Linked DNA regions of Homo sapiens: all the other regions are linked to region 1. The links come from fine-mapping of genetic effects on gene expression. A gene starts in region 1. Each other region holds a variant in brackets. All regions are shown on one strand. Distances are between the middles of the regions.

What was found. PIP is the estimated chance that this variant, and not a neighbour inherited with it, causes the effect.
Region 2: its variant is the best candidate, but not a certain one, in a credible set for the expression of LONRF2 in atrial appendage (GTEx, PIP 0.52).
Region 3: its variant is the best candidate, but not a certain one, in a credible set for the expression of LONRF2 in stomach (GTEx, PIP 0.72).

Annotation. Positions count from the first base shown.
Region 1 is chr2:100,318,852-100,325,288 of GRCh38, forward strand. It overlaps LONRF2 (LON peptidase N-terminal domain and ring finger 2), which reads right to left and starts at 3,650. Exons shown (of 12, transcript NM_198461.4): 1 at 2,564-3,650. The coding sequence starts at 3,242.
Region 2 is chr2:100,406,642-100,411,641 of GRCh38, forward strand. CHST10 (carbohydrate sulfotransferase 10) reads right to left here. Exons shown (of 7, transcript NM_004854.5): 3 at 1-66. The coding sequence starts at 34. Among named protein-coding and RNA genes, the nearest start is that of CHST10, 8.5 kb to the right of the region's middle. The variant G/A (reference allele first, on the strand shown) is at 2,465.
Region 3 is chr2:100,342,254-100,348,690 of GRCh38, forward strand. No RefSeq gene overlaps it. Among named protein-coding and RNA genes, the nearest start is that of LONRF2, 23 kb to the left of the region's middle. The variant T/A (reference allele first, on the strand shown) is at 3,572.

The sequences.
Region 1 (6,437 bases):
CCAGGCATGGTGGCTTACACCTGATATCCCAGCACTTTGGGAGGCTGAGGCGGGCGGATCACAAGGTCAGGAGATTGAGACCATCCTGGCCAACATGGTGAAACCCTGTCTCTACTAAAAATACAAAAATTAGCTGGGCATGGTAGTGCGTGCCTGTAATCCCAGCTACTTGGGAGGCTGAGGCAGGAGAATTGCTTGAACCAGGGAGTCGGAGGTTGTAGAGCCACGCCACTACACTTCAGCCTGGTGACAGAGCAAGACTCCGTCTTAAAAAAAAAAAAAAAAGTCAGAGCTTGGATCTAAACACAGGTATTTCTGATTCCAAACATCTGTGAACTTTTTTTTTAACTATATCAAAACCTCTTTAAAAGGGCTAATTTATTTTGAAATTAAATGTTTTCATAAAATTTTAAGCTAATCTTTGAATAGAAAAATGAATACATTCTATATAAGTTCTCATATGAATTTACTGAAATAGCCTATTTTAAAAACGTTTAAATTAGGTCTAATATATATACAGAAAAGCTAAAAATATAAGTATATAGTGCAATGAACTATTGCAAAGTGAACACACTTGTGTATCCATCCCCTAAATCATGAAACAGAACATCACCACTACCCCACAGATCCCTCTCATACTTCCTCACAATCACTATTCCCTTTTCATCCCCCCAAGGTAACCATTGTCCTTACTTCTAACATCCTACAGTAATTTTGTCTGTTTGGGCTTACAGATAAATAGGATCATATAGTAAAAATGCTTGAGTCTGGCTTCTTCCACTTAACATTATGTTTGTGAGATTTGTCCACATTGTAGTTTGTAACTGTAGTTGATTTATTTTCTTTCTGTATAGTATGCTATGAAAACATAATCATATATTCACCCCTTCTGCTCTTACTGGACATTTGGGTTGTGTGCACTTTTGGGGTATCTCTAACAATGACATACACTCTTGTATCTAATTGCACATTCTTTTGGGGGCACATATGCATATACCTCTTTGAAACTATTTGGCCAAGGACAGGCTTAACATCTGTAGATACTACCAAATATTTTTCAGGGGCATAATTTGCAGTCCCATTAGCAGCATATAAATATCACAGTTTTCATTTTTCTACATCTTCTCCAACATCTAAATACAGATGAAGTATTTCTGATGAAAATTTGATGTTGGAATTGGGTAGTGCAGTAAATGCAAAATATATAACGAATTTCAAAGGCTTAGTTTAAAAAAGTAAAATCTCAATTATTTTTTAAAATTGAAGGCATGTTGAAATAATATTTTGGATGTATAGGGTTAAAAATTGCTAAAATAAATTTCACCTGCTTTTTTCACCCTTTTAATGTAGCTACAAGAAAATCCCAAATTATGTGTGGCTTACACAATAGTTCTAATTGGATAGTGCTGCTCTAACACCATCAATACCTAAATTAGTAGAAAACTAAAAAATATGCCTGTTAAAGTATGGATATGTTGGTTGCAAAAACTACAGAATACTCGTTAGAAAAGCTGAGTTAAGTGCTCTATTCCAGCAGAGAATATCCCAATTTAGATACAGATATTGAACACTTGTTCAATATTTGGATCTTTTTTTTTGCAAGACAAAATTGAATGCTAGTCACTTTATAATTTGTGCCTTCTAAAAGGGAAAACCTTAATCCTAAGTTTAAAATAAAATGTGCACTGACTACAGCATGGTAGTAGATTATTTTAGTAACAAGAGATTCAACAAGTCTTCTCGGCTAGTGCTTTAAATCGTATATGCCCTATTATAAAACCGGTGAAACCAGAAAGCAAACCGTCCTCCTCACACTGCCCAAAACAACTGCCAATAGAGCGCATACTCATATGTCAAAGCCAAAACGATGACAGAAGTTTGGTCTTCCTTTCAGCTAAATAGTGTTAACAGGTGGTGGCTGGGTGAAGGCAGGAGAGTGCCTGTTGCTGGCCTTAGGCCTCAGATAAATAAGGAAATGACTGAATGAACAATTTAAAACTACACACACTAGTCAGTGTAACTATCTAGTAAGTTAAATACGCCATGACATCTAATGATGGCCTCTGAGACAGAGAGCAGGCTAGAGCCGGAGCGTTTGACGTGATTACAGCAGAGTGGAGGCGGTTCCTTCCTGGCTATATTAGCTGAAACCCAAAGCAAATCTTGCCCCAGCACAAGGCACCCCTTTCTGCGCCTGTAGTGTGTCAGCTATGTGCATTTTCCTTCAGGATGAGCAAAAATATTTCGTCATCCTCCCCGCTCCTCAACAGCGCAGAAGATGCCGAAAAGCAATTACAGGACCTTACAGAGCTGCTCCGGGGGCCGCGGGAAACTTACCAGCATCCTGGAAAAGACAAAACCAGTGGGGTGCACTTGGCCTCTCCTGGCTGCAGGGTGTGGCCGCCCCCACCTTTCACCTTCCCATCCTTAGGAAGCAAAGTGACCCCTAAGCCTAGACAAAGCTCTCGAAAGCCCAAAGCCTCGGGCCCACCGGCCAGCTCCCCACCCCGCTGCTGGGCCGGACAGGTGTAGGGGAGGCGGACCCGCCCCGCAGCCGACTCACCCAGCTCCAGGGCCTGGTCGCACCTGAGCAGCGCGGCCTCCGGCTGCTGCTGGCGCTGCAGGCTCCGCGCCTGGCCTGCCAGCCTGCGCAGCCGGCACTCGGCCGGGAAGCACTTCTCCAGCAGGCCGCTCAGCACCACGTTCACGCGCCGCACCTGCGGCCGCGCGGGCCCTGGCTCCACGCAGCGCTTGCAGACTGTGAGCCCGCAGGGCAGCGTCACCGGCTTATGCAGCAGCCGCCGGCAGCGCGGGCAGCCGAGCAGGTCGCGGGGCGCGCGGGGCTCCGGGGCCGGCCCTCCCTCGCCGGGCGCCTCGGGCTCGCCGCCCGGGTTCTCCGCGGACAGCGGCCGGTCGCGCAGGCCCACGGCGCGCACCAGGCCGCCCGCCAGCTCTTCCAGCTCCTCCGGCCGCAGCGCCCCGAGCCGCGCGGCGCCGCGGAACGCGCCCAGGGCTTCGGGGAGGCGGCCGGCGCGGGCCAGCGCGTCCCCCAGCCTCAGGCACAGGCCGCGGTCCGGCTGCGCCAGCCCGGCTAGCATGGAGCGAAAGAGCTCGGCTGCCATCTCGTAGTCGCCCGCGCGGAAGGCCTCGTCGCCCTCCTCTAAGCGCTGGGCGATCGGCTCCGCGCGGTCGCAGCCAGGACACTGGGGCGGCGGCGGCGGCGGGACCGGCTCGGGGCTCATCACCGCGGGGCTGCGACGACGCGGGTCCGGAGCGAAGGCGCGGAGCAGGGAGGATGCGCTGCTGCTGGGAACTGGCCGGCGGGAGCGCGGTCTCAGCCCTCGCCAGCAGCCACGCGCGTCTGGGGGCGGCGCGCTGCGAGCGGCTGAGACCGCGGGCGGGGGCGGGCGCCTGGCTTGGGCAGCGTCCTCAGCGCGGTGTGGGCGGCGAGCCCCGCAGGGCTGCAATCGTTCCGGGGTGGGGGCCGGGACAGGCACCGCGGGCGCAATCTGAGCCCCTGCCCACGCGCAGCGGCCTCTCAGTCCCGCCGGCTTAGGTAACCCAGGTCGCTGCGGTAACGCAGTGACCGCGCTCCAGGTCCGCGTCTCTTGCGATGCTTCCCCCACTCGCCTGAGGGCTCCTGCGCGACTGCGCGCGCGTCCTCTGCCTGCCGCCTCCCCGCAGAGGTGCCGGGGCCCTGGGAGCAGGTGGCCTTGGCCGCGGGCTGCTGGCGCGCCGGCACCGCGGCACCTGCTCTTCCCCAGAGGCCTGGCCGCCCCCACAACCTGTGGCTCCGCTTAAGCAAGAACCCAGGAAAAGTCACCAAACGCATCACGCATCTCTAGCTTCGACTTAGGAAATTGTCCTAAATGACTGGGGAGGCTGAAGTGGGCACCCAGAGGCCCCGCCTCAGCGAGCTTCTTCTCTTAACTCTAGGCTGAGGCCTTTGAGAACTCATTTTAACAGAGAACGTGGAGGGCCAAGAGAACCAGATACCAGGAGGAGGAGGGATTCGAGAAGTGGACAATTGTATTGTGCCCTTGATTAGGAAGCAGAAATAGAATTAGAAATAGAATTCTAATTAATAGAATTAGAATAGAAATAGAAAGGGTGCCCTAGTATGGAGTACTGCAGACATAAGTTGCTGGGGAGAGGGAGCTAAACGCTCCGTTGGTGTACAAGCAAGGTTTAAATTAAAATCCTCTGTGCGTATTAACCGGGTTCATAATTTCTCCTATATAGCCTATGTATTTCTCCTATGTAGCCTGCTCCCTTCTTCCTGTCGTCACAGTATCTGTTTTATCCTGTGTATTTGAATACAATAAAATGCATTACAATATTCTAGAATTCATACTACTGTTCATATTTCAAGAATAAATTTTTTTAAAAAATTGGAGAGGTTTTTCTACATCTAAAACTGCTGGCTAAAGAAAATATACAATACCTCGACCACATCTGGCTTTGGGAAAGGAGAAATGCCTCATTAAGTGAGAGAACATTTTAGACCAGTTCCTAAAAGGGAAAAAGGGGCAATTTTTGGCCAGCCCTCTAGTTCTACAATAAACAAATGCAGAGTACCCACCTCCTTTTCCATGAAGGATTTCCCCCAGCTGTCTACCTAACTTAATTGATAACAGTGTACTGTTTGGGTCTCTTTTTCATTACTGAATTATTTCAAATTCACTTTTTCAATCACTGTTTGGATTTTTATCTGCTTTCTTTATAGAATAACAATTCACTTATATTTGAGGGTCATTTATCCATCAAATTCACAACCAACAATCAGGAAGCAATGGGGAAAAAGCTTCAGAGCACAGACCATACAGTAAAGATTGTGAAACCTTATGATCTCAGATCCTATTTGTTCTTATTTTAGACAAATATCTAGCAAGAGAACAGAAAGAAGCTTGCCGGAGGTATGCCTGCTGAGAGCCAGAAGTGTTTAAAGCAAAAATGTTAGTGTGTTGTGAGGTTTATAACACATAGAAATAAAATATATCACAAATATAACACAAAGGCAGGTAGAGGAGAAATGGCAGGATACTGTTGTAAGGTTCTAATGCTATATGTGAAATGGTATAATGTCACTTTAAGAAAGACTGTAATGAGTTAAGGATGTGTCCTCTAACCCTAAAGCAACCTCCTAAATAACACAAAGAGCTATAGTTTAAAAGCCTATAGAGATGAAATGAAATTGTTAAAAAAAACTCTATTAATCCAAAAGAAGGCATAAAAAGAGAGGAAGGAAACAATTAGATAAAACAAATAGAGAACAAATAGCAAGATGGCAGGTTTAAACCCAATTATATCGGTTAATGTTCATTAAATATTGTCTAAATACCATAATTAAAAGGCAAAGATTGTCAAAAGGAAGACCCAGATATATGCTGCCTACCAAAAAAGAACTTTTAAATATGAAAATACAAATAAGGTAAAGGTAAAAGGATGGAAAAAGATGTTCTAGTTAACTCTAAGCAAAATAAATCTAGAGTGACTATATTGATAGCTGACAAAGTCTATTACATAGCCAAGAACATTGCTAGGAGAAAGGACAGCCATTTCATAATGATAAAGGTGTTAGTTGGTCAAGAGGACATAATAGTCCTAACCGCGTGTGTTCCCAATAACAGAGCTTTCAAATATTTGAAGCAAAAACTGATAGAACTGTAAGGTGAAATAGGTAAATTAATAATTATAGTTGGATATTTAAATATCCCTTTTTCACCATAAAAAGAACAAGATCATGTCCTTTGTAAGGACATGGATGGAGCTGGAAGCCGTTATCCTCAGCAAACCAACACAGGAACAGAAAACCAGATGCTGCATATTCTCACTTATGAGTGGGAACTGAACAATGAGAACACATGGACACAGGGAGGGGAACAACACACACTGGGGCCTGTCGGCGGTGGGACCGAGGAAGGGAGAGCATGAAGAAAAATAAGTAATTCATGTGGGGCTTAAAACCTAGGTGATGGTTTGATAGGTGCAGTAAACCACCATGGCACACGTTTACCTATGTAACAAACCTTCACATCCTGCACGTGTACCCCAGAACTTAAAAATAAAACACCCCTCTTTCAACAATTAATACAAGTATACTGAAAATCAGTGAGGCTATAGAAGACTTGAGCAATTCTACAAACCAACTCAATCTGATTGATGTTTATAGAACACTCCACCCAACAATAGCAGAATACACATTCTTTCCAAGTGCACATGGGACATTTACCGATATAGAACATCTTAGAGCCATAAAACAAATCCCAATTTAAAAGTATTCCTTCTAGGGCACTGATACATCAATAAATTGGATCAAATTGAGGACTTCTGCTGTTTTAAAGACACTGCTAAGACATGCTACACACTAGGAGAAAATATTTGCCGATCACATAGCTGATAAAGTACGAACCAAAAATATATAAAGAAATCCAAGA
Region 2 (5,000 bases), 87 kb after region 1:
AGCATGCGGCCAGCAGAAGCCACTGGTGGTGCATGTTGTCACACCGCAGCCATTCACTGACTCTTCCTGGAAAACACAAGCGAGATGCCCCTGCTGCTTACAAATACATCAAGTCAACAAAGAGGAATGAAAACGACAGGTGATTTCAGTCAGTAAGTATCAGCACAAATATTTCCGTTTTTTTCCACTGCTACAATAGGTAGTTTGACTTGGCATTTAACATTTCATATTGAATTAATAATATAAATGATTGATTCAATAATAAAATCAAATTTAGAACACCCTAATGGAGAGACATGATAATGAGAGAAGACCACTTCCTTGTGTTCTCAGAACACAGAATAAGACTCCTTTGCACATTTGATCCCTGACTCCTGTTGGGCCCAGGCTAAGGTCCCAGTGAGCTCCCACGATGGTCTGGAAGCAGGTGGCAGGAAGAGGCCTGCCAAGGACTAGGCCTTAGCTGAGGGTCATTCATAGTGGGCAGAAGCCATGCTGGGGCAATTAGGAGCTGGCTGTGTTTAAAATTCTGACTGGCTGACAAGATGTAGCCACACCTAGAGAAGCTCTAAAAAAGCAAAGGAATGAACACTGACGCTTCTCGCCTCCGCCCACTTGCCAGCAGCGGCCTGGGTAGAACACTGAGGTGGGTGTTTTTCATGCTGTCACAGCCAGGGAGCAACACGGGGCATGTCGGTCCTCAGCCTGGCACAGAAGCCACACTCTCCTGCAGGAGGCACATAAAGAACTGGGAAGTCACTGTCAGTTCTTGGCAGGTGACACAAGAAAGTGTGTTTCATTTCACCTTTAACACAGTGCTTCTTCAAGCCAAAGCTCTCCACGTACAGACAAGACCCTGGGCTGAGCTGGCTTCCACCGACTGACTGAGGCCATCCATCACTTCTGCATGGCAGGGAGAAGTGGTCCCCTCAACACAGTGCTGATGGCAAATAATTTCAGAGAGAGCCTCCTAACCCTGGGTGGGTCAGAGCTCCATGAAGACCCAGGTGAATCACTCTCCTTGTCTCAACATTTACATCCTAGAATCTCACAGGAACCAGGCATCTGGAATGCAAATAGGATCCATGACACACCCACCACGTAGTTATCCGGCCACACCTGAATACAGCCTGCAGTGGGGAGCTCACCACCTGCCAAGCTGCCTGGGTTTTCTCCGGATGGCTCGCAAACCACCCTCAGGTGCCCGTGTATAAGGCTTCGTGTGTTTCCTGGGGTCACCAATAGGGTTGCCTGATTAGACAAATAAAAATACAGGACATCCCCCAAGTTAAGATTGAATTTCAGATAACATAAAATTTTAGTGTAAGTATAACCCAAATATTGCATAAGACATACTTATACTCCCCCCCAAAACCAGTATTTTTTGTGCCCAGATATGAGGCCCAGTGTCCTTCCCAGGTTCCCCAAGTCGGGTTGAACAAATAAAAACACAGGATACCCAGTTAGATTTAATTTCAGTTAATTTTTTTAGTATAAAGTATGTCCCAAATATTACATATACTTATACTAAAAAAAAACAAAAACAAAAACCTATGTGTTGTTTTCTGAACTTCACATTTAACCGAGTGTACTGTAGTTTATCAGCAACACCACCCAGCAGGGGCATGCCAAATTCCTTGCAAGCCAGCTGTCCTGTCTCCTGTCTCCATCCCACAATCCCCTCCTCCTTCCGCCACTCCATGTCAGAGATAGTGAGGCACAAAGAACCCCAGACTTGGTTCAAATCCCTGCTCACACCCATTAGCTCTGTGACTCCATAAGTCACTTAACCTCTCTAAGCCTCAATGTCCCATCTCTAATAGAAGGCCCTCCTCCTACCACTACCTCAGAGTGGCCATGAGGATTAAATGAGACAATGTAGACAAAAAACCAGCACCCACCTGGCCTGGTGCAGACCCCCAGTAAAAACTGACCAATCCCTTGGCACTCTTCGTGATTTTCCAGCTTAATCTACACCTTTCTCAGTGTGGTTGCCAGAAATTAATGCGACAGTAGGGTCTACACCAAGAAGAGAGAAAAAAACAAGACACACTCTTATTCCAGCAACTGCTAACTTCCCTTCAAGAAACTGAGGCTTAGACTGTGGCCAGAGGATGCAGGGCCCAGCAGTACCAAGTCCACTGAGCTCAGCCCTCTAAGACAGTGCACTCAGGGGGGTCCATCCTCATGGGTCACAGTGAGAGCACCCCCCTGAAAAATGCCAGCTGCAGGCCATTTCTAACCAAGCAGCAGAGGCACCAGGGTGGGTTGGGGAGGGAGTAAAAGGAACAGGATGTACCACGCAGGTTGCATGCAATTCTAAACAGACAGGTCCTGGCTCTGAGTGTCCTGGGGCTTGCAACCCACCCTCTCCTAGGATCAGTGCTATGAAAAAGGGAACAACGATAAGAGGCACTGCCTCCCTCCTGCAGGTGACGCGCTGACTCTGCAGAGCATGTGGCGG[G/A]AGGACCTGGGAACTGCATATTCCACTGCCTGCTCTGCTCATTCCCTCCAGGCTTCCAACCCCTGATCACCCTCGCCCGGCCTCAGGACAGCACTTTGGAGGTTTTTATAGTTTAAGAATCAAATCTTTCCAATGGAACTAGTCTTCTGAAGGAATGTAATATGATTTCGCCCACTGAGCTCATCTGCAGGTAAAGTGGGAAGATAATGAAGCCTTACCTGAAAATGAATAGCACCTCTTCTGTTCTCCAGGAAGCCAGGTGGCCTAGGGATAGGATTTCTCCAACTACATGAGTTGAAAACTGAGAGGTGCACTCTCCTGAAGCCATATGTGCCTTCCTAAGTATTGGATTTTCATTTAAAAGTCAGGAGCTCTTAGCTTCTTTCAGCTGGGCGGGGGGTCAGGGGCTGGTCTACACTCACCCTCTCCCTAGCTAGTCTTTCACCTGGGCTGGGGTCAGGGACTGGTCTGCACTCACCGTCTCCGTAGCTAGTCTTTCACCCGGGCAGGAGGTCAGGGACTGGTCTACACTCACCCTCTCCCTAGCTAGGTGGCTGTGGGTGTGTCAATGAAGAGCTCTTCGGGCTCCCATTTTTCATCCACAGGAACAAACAGCTACCTGCACACTCATCAGTCAGAAGACCTTCTCAACAATCATGCAACTGACCATGTATCATCCAATGTGTTCTTTCACATGGGTATTTCATTTTCAAAAAATCCATTTTTAACTTGACTTCTGCAAACTCTTACTAAACTAAGATATACAGAGAGTCCCTTCCCTGGCCACTCCATTAGGATAGGAGAAGGGTGGACTGCAGGGTTCCCACCTCCTTCCCCTGCTTTTTCCCTGCTTCTTGTCCCCGGGATGGTACCAGGACACGTGGAGACTCCAGTGGGGGATGTGGATTTGCAAAGCTTCAGGGGCAAAACCCTAGCCCTGCCAAAACCACTCTCTTGAGAAGAGCATTACACCCCAGGCCCCTATCAGCATTTCAAGCACAGCTGCCTGCCAGCATGCCCATATCTGGCTGTAGAGCCCCTTGCAGGCCACAGAGCCTGTGGGCAGTCACTGCGGGGTCCAGGAGGGAGCTCTCTGAGGAGCTGCTCCCGGCCACTGGGCTTCTTGTACACTCGGGGTAAGCAGGGCCTGCTCCCTTTCCCATGGGCAGCAGAGGAAGAGTCAGCTCTGCCTCATCACCACCCAGGTGGCACCCCCAGCACCGCTCTGCGCCACCTGACCTTGCTCCACTTCCTCCACTACACCCAGCACAGTCCAGATGCTCTCGCTATGTGCCATTTGCTCTCCTTGCAGAATATGGGCTCATGCTGGTCAGGACAGCAGGGACCAGCACAGTGCCTGGCGCACCATGAGCCAACAATTGCTATTTGCTGAATGACTGTGTCAATTGAGCAACTTACTAGAACTCAGGAATGTGGAAAGGTACTTCAGGAGGCAGCCTGCCCAACCCTCTCCCTGAGGGTCTCCAGGCTTTTTCAAGAATGAGGCCCCCTTTCAACCTCAAAATATTTCTCTAGTCTCCACAGAGCAGTTCTATGTTTAATATCCATTAACTGAGACTAGAAAACAACCAAATGCTATGAGGACTTCAGTATTATTTGAAAACAAAATGATCTAAGCCACAGCATGTATATGCATTCAAATACACTTACTACTTAAAACACATTGATTGGGGGGTTTAGGAAATCATGCCGAAGTCCAAAAACATTTTCATTTCAAATAAAACTCTATGATGAAAGGCAAGCCAATGACATAGATCCATATCCAAAGTGTCAAGATATACCAGTAAACAAAAAAGACAAGTTGCAGGATGGAATGTATGATCCCATTTGTTAAAAAAATCATGTATGTGTGAAATATATATGATTACACACATATACAAACATAGACACATATATGTAATACATAGAATAAAATCATGAGAGGACAGTAAGAGCTCTTTTTGTACTTTATACAATTCATATTTTAAATATTTGTAATAAGCATTTTTTCTTTTTTTTTTTTTTTTTTGAGGCAGTGTGTCTCTCTGTCACCCCGGCTGGAGTGCAGTGGTGCAATCTTGGCTCACTGCATCCTGCACCTCCTGGGTTCAAGCGATTCTCCTGCCTCAGCCTCCTGAGTGGCTGTGATTACAGGCACGCCACACCTGGAAAATTTTTATATTTTTAGTAGAGATGGGGTTTCACCATGTTGGCCAGGCTGGTCTTGAACTCCTGACCTCAAGTGATCCACCTGCCTTGGACTCTCAAAGTGCTGGGATTATAGGCGTGAGCCACCACACCCGGCCTAGTTAAAAATTTAGAAAACTGGGACTTGTTCTACAAGTCACATCCTACATGAGCCAATCAGAACCAGTAAGACTACAGCCCAGTACTCTCTCAAAATACCCACTTCCCTCAGGTCCAATATCTCTACAGTTTACAAAATACAGCACTCAAACATGAGTAGGTGTGTATGTGCATACAAGTTTAAGGACAAAATAACCTAAAAATAATGACTTCAAGCTCATTATTCATT
Region 3 (6,437 bases), 23 kb after region 1:
CTTCCCCATAGGAAAAGCTGGGAACTTGTTGGGAGGTATTTGAATATCAGCCTCTCAGGCAAGGCTCCCTCTACTCCCTCCTTCACCCCCTTCCTGCCCAATCTTGCACATTATTCTCTTCCTATGAGGTAAATTGTCAAATCTCCCCCAAACCCAGCCTCCCTAAGTGGCTGGTGCTAACCCTTGTCTTGCAACTGTATTTGCAATCCAGTAATGCTACTGATAAGGTTTGGCTGCGTCCCCACCCAAATCTCATCTTGAAATGTAGCTCCCATAATCCCTGCGTGACATAGGAGGGACACAGTAAGAGGTAATTGAATCATGGGGGTGGGTTTTTCCCATGCTATTCTCATGATAGTGAATAAGTCTCATGAGATCTGATGGTTTTATAAAGGGCAGTTCCCCTGCACATGTGCTCTTGCCTGCCACCATGTAAAACATGCCTTTGCTCCTCCTTTGCCTTCCACTATAAATGTGAGGCCTCCCCAGCCATGTGGAACTGTGAGTCCATTAAACCTCTTTTTCTTTATAAATTATCCAGTCTTGGGCATTTCTTCATAGCAGTATGAAAATGGATGAATACAGTAAATTGGTACAGGTAGAGTGGGGTACTGCTATAAGGATACCTGAAAATGTGGAAGCGACTTTGGAACTGGGTAACAGGCAGAGGTTGGAAAAATTTGGAGGGTGCAGAAAAAGACAGGAAAATGTGAGAAAGTGTGGAACTTCCTAGAGACTTATTGAATGGCTTTGACAAAATGCTGACAGTGATATGGACAATGAAATCCAGGCTGAGGTGGTCTCAGATGGAGATGATGAACTTGTTGGGAACTGGAATAAAGGTGACTCTTGCTATGTTTTAGCAAAGAGACTGGTGGCATTTTGCCCCTGCCCTAGAGATCTGTGGAACTTTGAACTTGAGAGAGTTGATTTAGGGTATCTGGCAGAAGAAATTTCTAAGCAGCAAAGCATTTCAGAGGTCACCTGGTGCTGTTAAAAGCATTCAGTTTTATGTATTCACAAAAATATGGCTTGGAATTTGAACTTATATTTAAACGGGAAGCAGAGCATAAAAGTTTGGAAAATTTGCAGCCTGATGATGCAATAAAAAAGAAAAACCCATTTTTTGAAATGAAATTCAAGCTAGCTACAGAAATTTGCATAAATAATGAGAAGCCAAATGTTAATCACCAAGACAATGGGGAACATGTCTCCAGGGCATGTCAGAAGTCTCCCCAGCAACATTCCCATCACAAGCCAGGAAGCCTATGAGAAAAAATGTTTTTGTGGGCTGGACCAGGGTCTTGTTGCTTTGTGCAGTCTCGGGACTTGGTGCCCTGCATACCAGCTGTGGCTTAAAGGGGCCAACATAGAGCTCAGGCTGTTGCTTCACAGGGTGCAAACTCCAGACCTTGGCAGCTTACACATGGTGTTAGGCCTGTAGGTGCACAGAAGTCAAGAATTGAGGCTTGGGAACCTCCACCTAGATCTCAGAGGATGTATGGAAATACCTGGATGTCCAGGCAGAAGTGTGCTGCAGGGGTAGAGATCTCTTGGAGAACCTCTGCTAGGGCAGTGTGGAAGGGAAATGTGGGGTGGGAGCCCCTACACAGAGTCCCCACTAGGGCACTGACTAGTGGAGCTGTGAGAAGAGGGCCACCATGTCTAGACCCCAGAATGACAGATCTGTTCCCGGACTGAACCAGGTCTGGCTGCATTTTCTCATGGCCCTATAATGAGATGCATATGAATTGGGAAAGAAGAGAGTTTGCTTCTGTAACTGGATACAGGGAGAGGGTCAGAGATAATTTGTTAGACCAACTCAGGATTATAAATTTTTTCCAGTGCCTACATATGTTTAGATTGTATGCCTATGTTCAGTACCATATTCACCTAAGTTTATAGGTGATTAATTTTGTTTTAACTACAAGGCCAGAGGCCAGAGATGTCCTCTAAATCTACTTAATCCATGAGGGCCCTGGAATCATGGTGATTAAGAAATGTCTCCTAAGTCTGTTTAATGAGGGCCCTGATACTGGAGTGATTACTTCTGTCTTATCTTACCTACGATTTGTGTCTAGAGAGTTGCTTCAGACCCCCAGTAAATTTATTCAACCCAAGATGGGTCTTGGTATGAGGAATGTAGGGCTGTCTTTGTTATCTTGACTTACCCCAGGTGTGGTCAACCCAAGATGGGTCCTGTTACAAGGAATGTAAAGCTATTTCCATTATCTTTACTTGTTCCAAGCTTCAGGAGAAGCCTGAGCAAGACTCTCCTGAAACATATGTTTCATTTCTGGCTTTAATGTCTGGGCATCAGTTTCCCTAGGTTTAATTATTAACTTACTGTTAAGGCAGACGCTGTGGAAGTTTGCCTGTATAACTGGAGTGCTATGGAGCCCTGTCTGTGTGACTCTCAGGGAGAATTGGCCTGCCACAGATCAACAACGGCTTGCACTGTGTGCCTGGAAAAGCCGCAGCCCGTGAAAGCAGCAGAGAGGGAGGCAAAAAGCCACAAGGGCAGAGCTCCCCCAGACCATGGAAACCCAGCTCTTGCATCAGCATGACCTGGATGTGAGACATAGAGTCAAAGGAGATCATTTTGGAGCTTTAGGATTTGACTGCCCTGCTGGATTTTGCAATTGCATGGAGCCTGTATCCCCTTTGCTTTGGCCAATTTCTCCCATTTGGAACAGATGTATTTACCCAATGCCTGTACCCCCATTGAATCTAGGAAGTAACTAACTTGCTTTTGATTTTACAGGCTCATAGGCACAAGGGACTTGCCTTGTCTCAGATAAGACTTTGGACTGTGGACTTTTGAGATAATGCTGAAAACAATTAGGACTTTGGGGGACTATTGGGAAGGCATGATTGGTTTTGAAATGTGAGGACATGAGATTTGGGAGGGGACAGGTGTGGAATGATATGGTTTGGCTGTGTCCCCTCCCAAATCTCATCTTGAATTGTAGCTCCCATAATCCCCACATGTCATGGGAGGAACTTGGTGGGAGGTAATTAAATCATGGGAGCAGGTCTTTCCTGTGCTGTCCTTGTGATAGTGAATAAGTCTCACAAGATCTGATGGTTTTATAAAGGGCAGTTTCCCTGCACACACTGTCTTGCCTGCCACCATGTAAAACGTGGCTTTGCTCCTCCTTTGCCTTCCCCCATTATTGTGAGGCCTCCCAGCTAGGTGGAATTGTGAGTCCATTAAACCTCTTTTTCTTTATAAGTTACCCAGTCTCAGGTATTTATTCATAGAATTATGAAAATGGACTAATACAGCTACTTCTTCCCCAGTGGCCCAATTTGTTAAACTACCCTAAAATATACTCCAACAACTACTGGGAAGTCAATCCTGCTGAATAATTTTTACCAGTTCACACATTAATTTGTTATTTATTAACAGCTGAAGGAGGACAAGGAGCCTGCAAAAGCTCCTAGAATGTTACAGGCATTTCTTTATCATTCCTGCACACTTGATACTGACTTGGGAGTTAGTGAGTAAATATAGGTTAAAAAAGAGGTTGGGATGGAAGATAAGCCCTATTCTTACAGAAACTTGTGA[T/A]TAACTCTCACCAAACCTTGGCATATTTAGTTTTCTACATTACATATTTTTCTATTTTTCTTCTGTAGAGATGATAGTTGCCTATTATAAATTGTAAATTTGGGACAAGTTAAGATCACCCCAGGAGTGTAAAATCTTGGCAGCTGCTGGAAGTCTGCTCAAGCACAGTGTAGTTGGTTTTCCTTACTTACCCTCATAGATATCCGCAACTGAAAATAGGTTGTATGGCTTTCAACTATAGAAATACGGCTCTTTATGCTATGGGTCTTTAGAGGACAAAAATAACCCTGGCTGCAGGGCGTCATGAACAGAGGTGTGGATGAGGACTAGTAGGCTTTTCCCAAGGCTAAGTCACTAGGTCCATTTAGCTGATGTGCAAGGAAAGGGAGGCAAGGCTTGGAAAATAAGTTGGCAAGGGGAAAAGGGCCCTAGTGACAACCTGAAGAGTCCGTGGTCTGAAACCTAATACAGTGGAGGAAATGGAGCAGTGGAGACTGCAGTGACTCAGAAGAAGAACAGCAAGGATTTTATTCATCCATTAGAAACAATTAAAGCTCCAATGTAACCCACATGCTCCCCTTGGTCAAAAGCCCTTAGCACAGATTGTGGCTCCTGAAAGGCTATTTAGCTACCATTTTAAAAATCATTCTGAAAGTTAAGGCAACAAGAGCAGGATCTTCTGCTCTGGGCTCAATTGTAATATTGGAGAAAGGACTATGTGGCCAAGCAGAAATTATGGGAACTTGGGAGAAATTCCCTGCCATGTTGGAGTGAATTCCAGACAAGGGAGATGATGGCATTGTCTTATGGGTCTTACATTTTAAGAAGATGTATTTCATAATTTCCAGAGAAAAGATAATCATAAATTCTTGGTGAAATTTTATTTTAAAAAGACTCATAAATGTGTATTTTTGCTAATCTATTCATAATTGAGGTCACAGTGGTGGTGAGAATTTGAGAGGAGAGGGTCAAATTGTGCCCAACCTCACAGGCTATGGCAGGGACTTCAGCATTTACTGTGAGGTGGAACACTGTTGGAGGGCTTTGAGCATAGGATTCATGCGAGGTGACTGACATCTGAAAATGTTCACACTGGCTGCTCTGTTTACCTAGCACCTCCTCAATAATTATGCAAAAAGTTTACAACAATATGTAGGAGTTTACTTTCACTCCCTACATATCTTTTGTGCTATTATGTCATATGTATTTTTTCCTGATAAAAGTTTTTCTTTGCCTTTATTTTTGCAGGCTATTTTTGATGAGCATAGAATTCGAAGTTCAAAGTTACTTTCTTTCAGCATGTTAAAGATGTCATTTCATTGTTCTGGCTTTCATAGTTTCTAGTGAGAAGTCTGTGACTGATTTGTGTTTGTTCCCCTATGTAATATGCTGTTTTTTCTTCTGATTGCTCCTAAGATTTTTTCCTTTATCACTGGTTTTCAGGAATTTTATATGCCTTGGGGTGGTTTTCTTTGTATTTAACCCTCTTGGAGTTCACTGAGCTTGTTAAACTTGTGGACATATAGATTTAATCAGATTTGGAAATTTCGGAGGCCATTATTTCTTCAAATATATTTTTCTGTTCCCCATTTTCTCCTTCTGGTACTCCCATTACATGTGTGCTAGACTATTTGACATTATCCCAGAGGTCACTGAGATTCTGTTGATTTATTTTCAGTGGTCTCTTTTTTATTTTGCATAGTTTCTGTTCTATCTATTGCTATGCATTCTAGTTCACTAATCTTTTTTTCTGCATGGTCTAGTATGTGAATTTTTTTTCCCACACAATGAATTTTTTTTCCAGATATTGTATTTTTAATCTCTAGGACCTTCCATGTGGTTCCTTTATATATCTCCCATTTCTCTCCTTACTACACTGATGTTTTCCTTTAAGCACTTAAACATAATTATAATAACTGTATTTACATCTTTTGCGGCCACTTTCATTATTTCTATTATTTCTAGGTCTGTTTATATTGACTGATTTTTCTCCTAAGTTGTGAGTCACATTTTTCTATTGCTTGGCAAGTCTAATAATACTGAACTGGATGCTGGAAATTGTACTTTTATTTAATGAGTATCTGGATTATTTTCTTTTTAAGTACAGGGCAAGGCTGGCCATGGTGGCTCACAACTGTAATCCCAGCATTGTGAGAGACTGAGGAGGGAGGATCACTTGAGTCCAGGAGTTTGAGATCAACCTGGGCAACAAAGTGAGACCCCATCTCTCCAAAACAACAACAACAACCAATTAACTGAGCATGGTAGCGTGTGCCTGTGGTCCCAGCTACTTGGGAGGCTGAGACGGGAGGATCACTTGAGCCCAGGAGGTCGAGGCTGCAGTGAGCCATGACTGTGCCACTATACTCCAGCTTGGGTGACAGAGAAAGACTCCCTCAGCCCCCCAAAAAGTATAGGGCATTGTTCTGGTAAAGTTACTTTCTGTTCCTTTTGAGGCTTCTTTTGAAGTTTTGTTATGGTGGATCTAGAGTTGCCTTTATATCAAGGAGAGCGTAGCCTTACTTCTAAGATGTGGCCCATCTGGGGGTTTCTATTGGGTGCCCTGAGTGGTGAGGGACAACTCTTTACTCTGGCTAATGGTGACCTTGCATAATTTCTAGGAGTGTGTGAGCCCTGAGAACCATTCAGCTCATAACTCTGACCTCTCTTTGCTCTACCTCATGGAGCTTCATCCTACATGTGCACACTTTATAATTCAGGAAAGTCTCAAGGCAACTGCCAGGTAAGTTTCTGTAGCTCTTTCTTTCTCCCTCCTGTTTATTCTATCTTTCCATTCTTGTACTCTGCCCCCACAACTTTCAGTTGCCTGAACTCCAACCTCTGTCTCCTAAGCCCAGGGAGGATT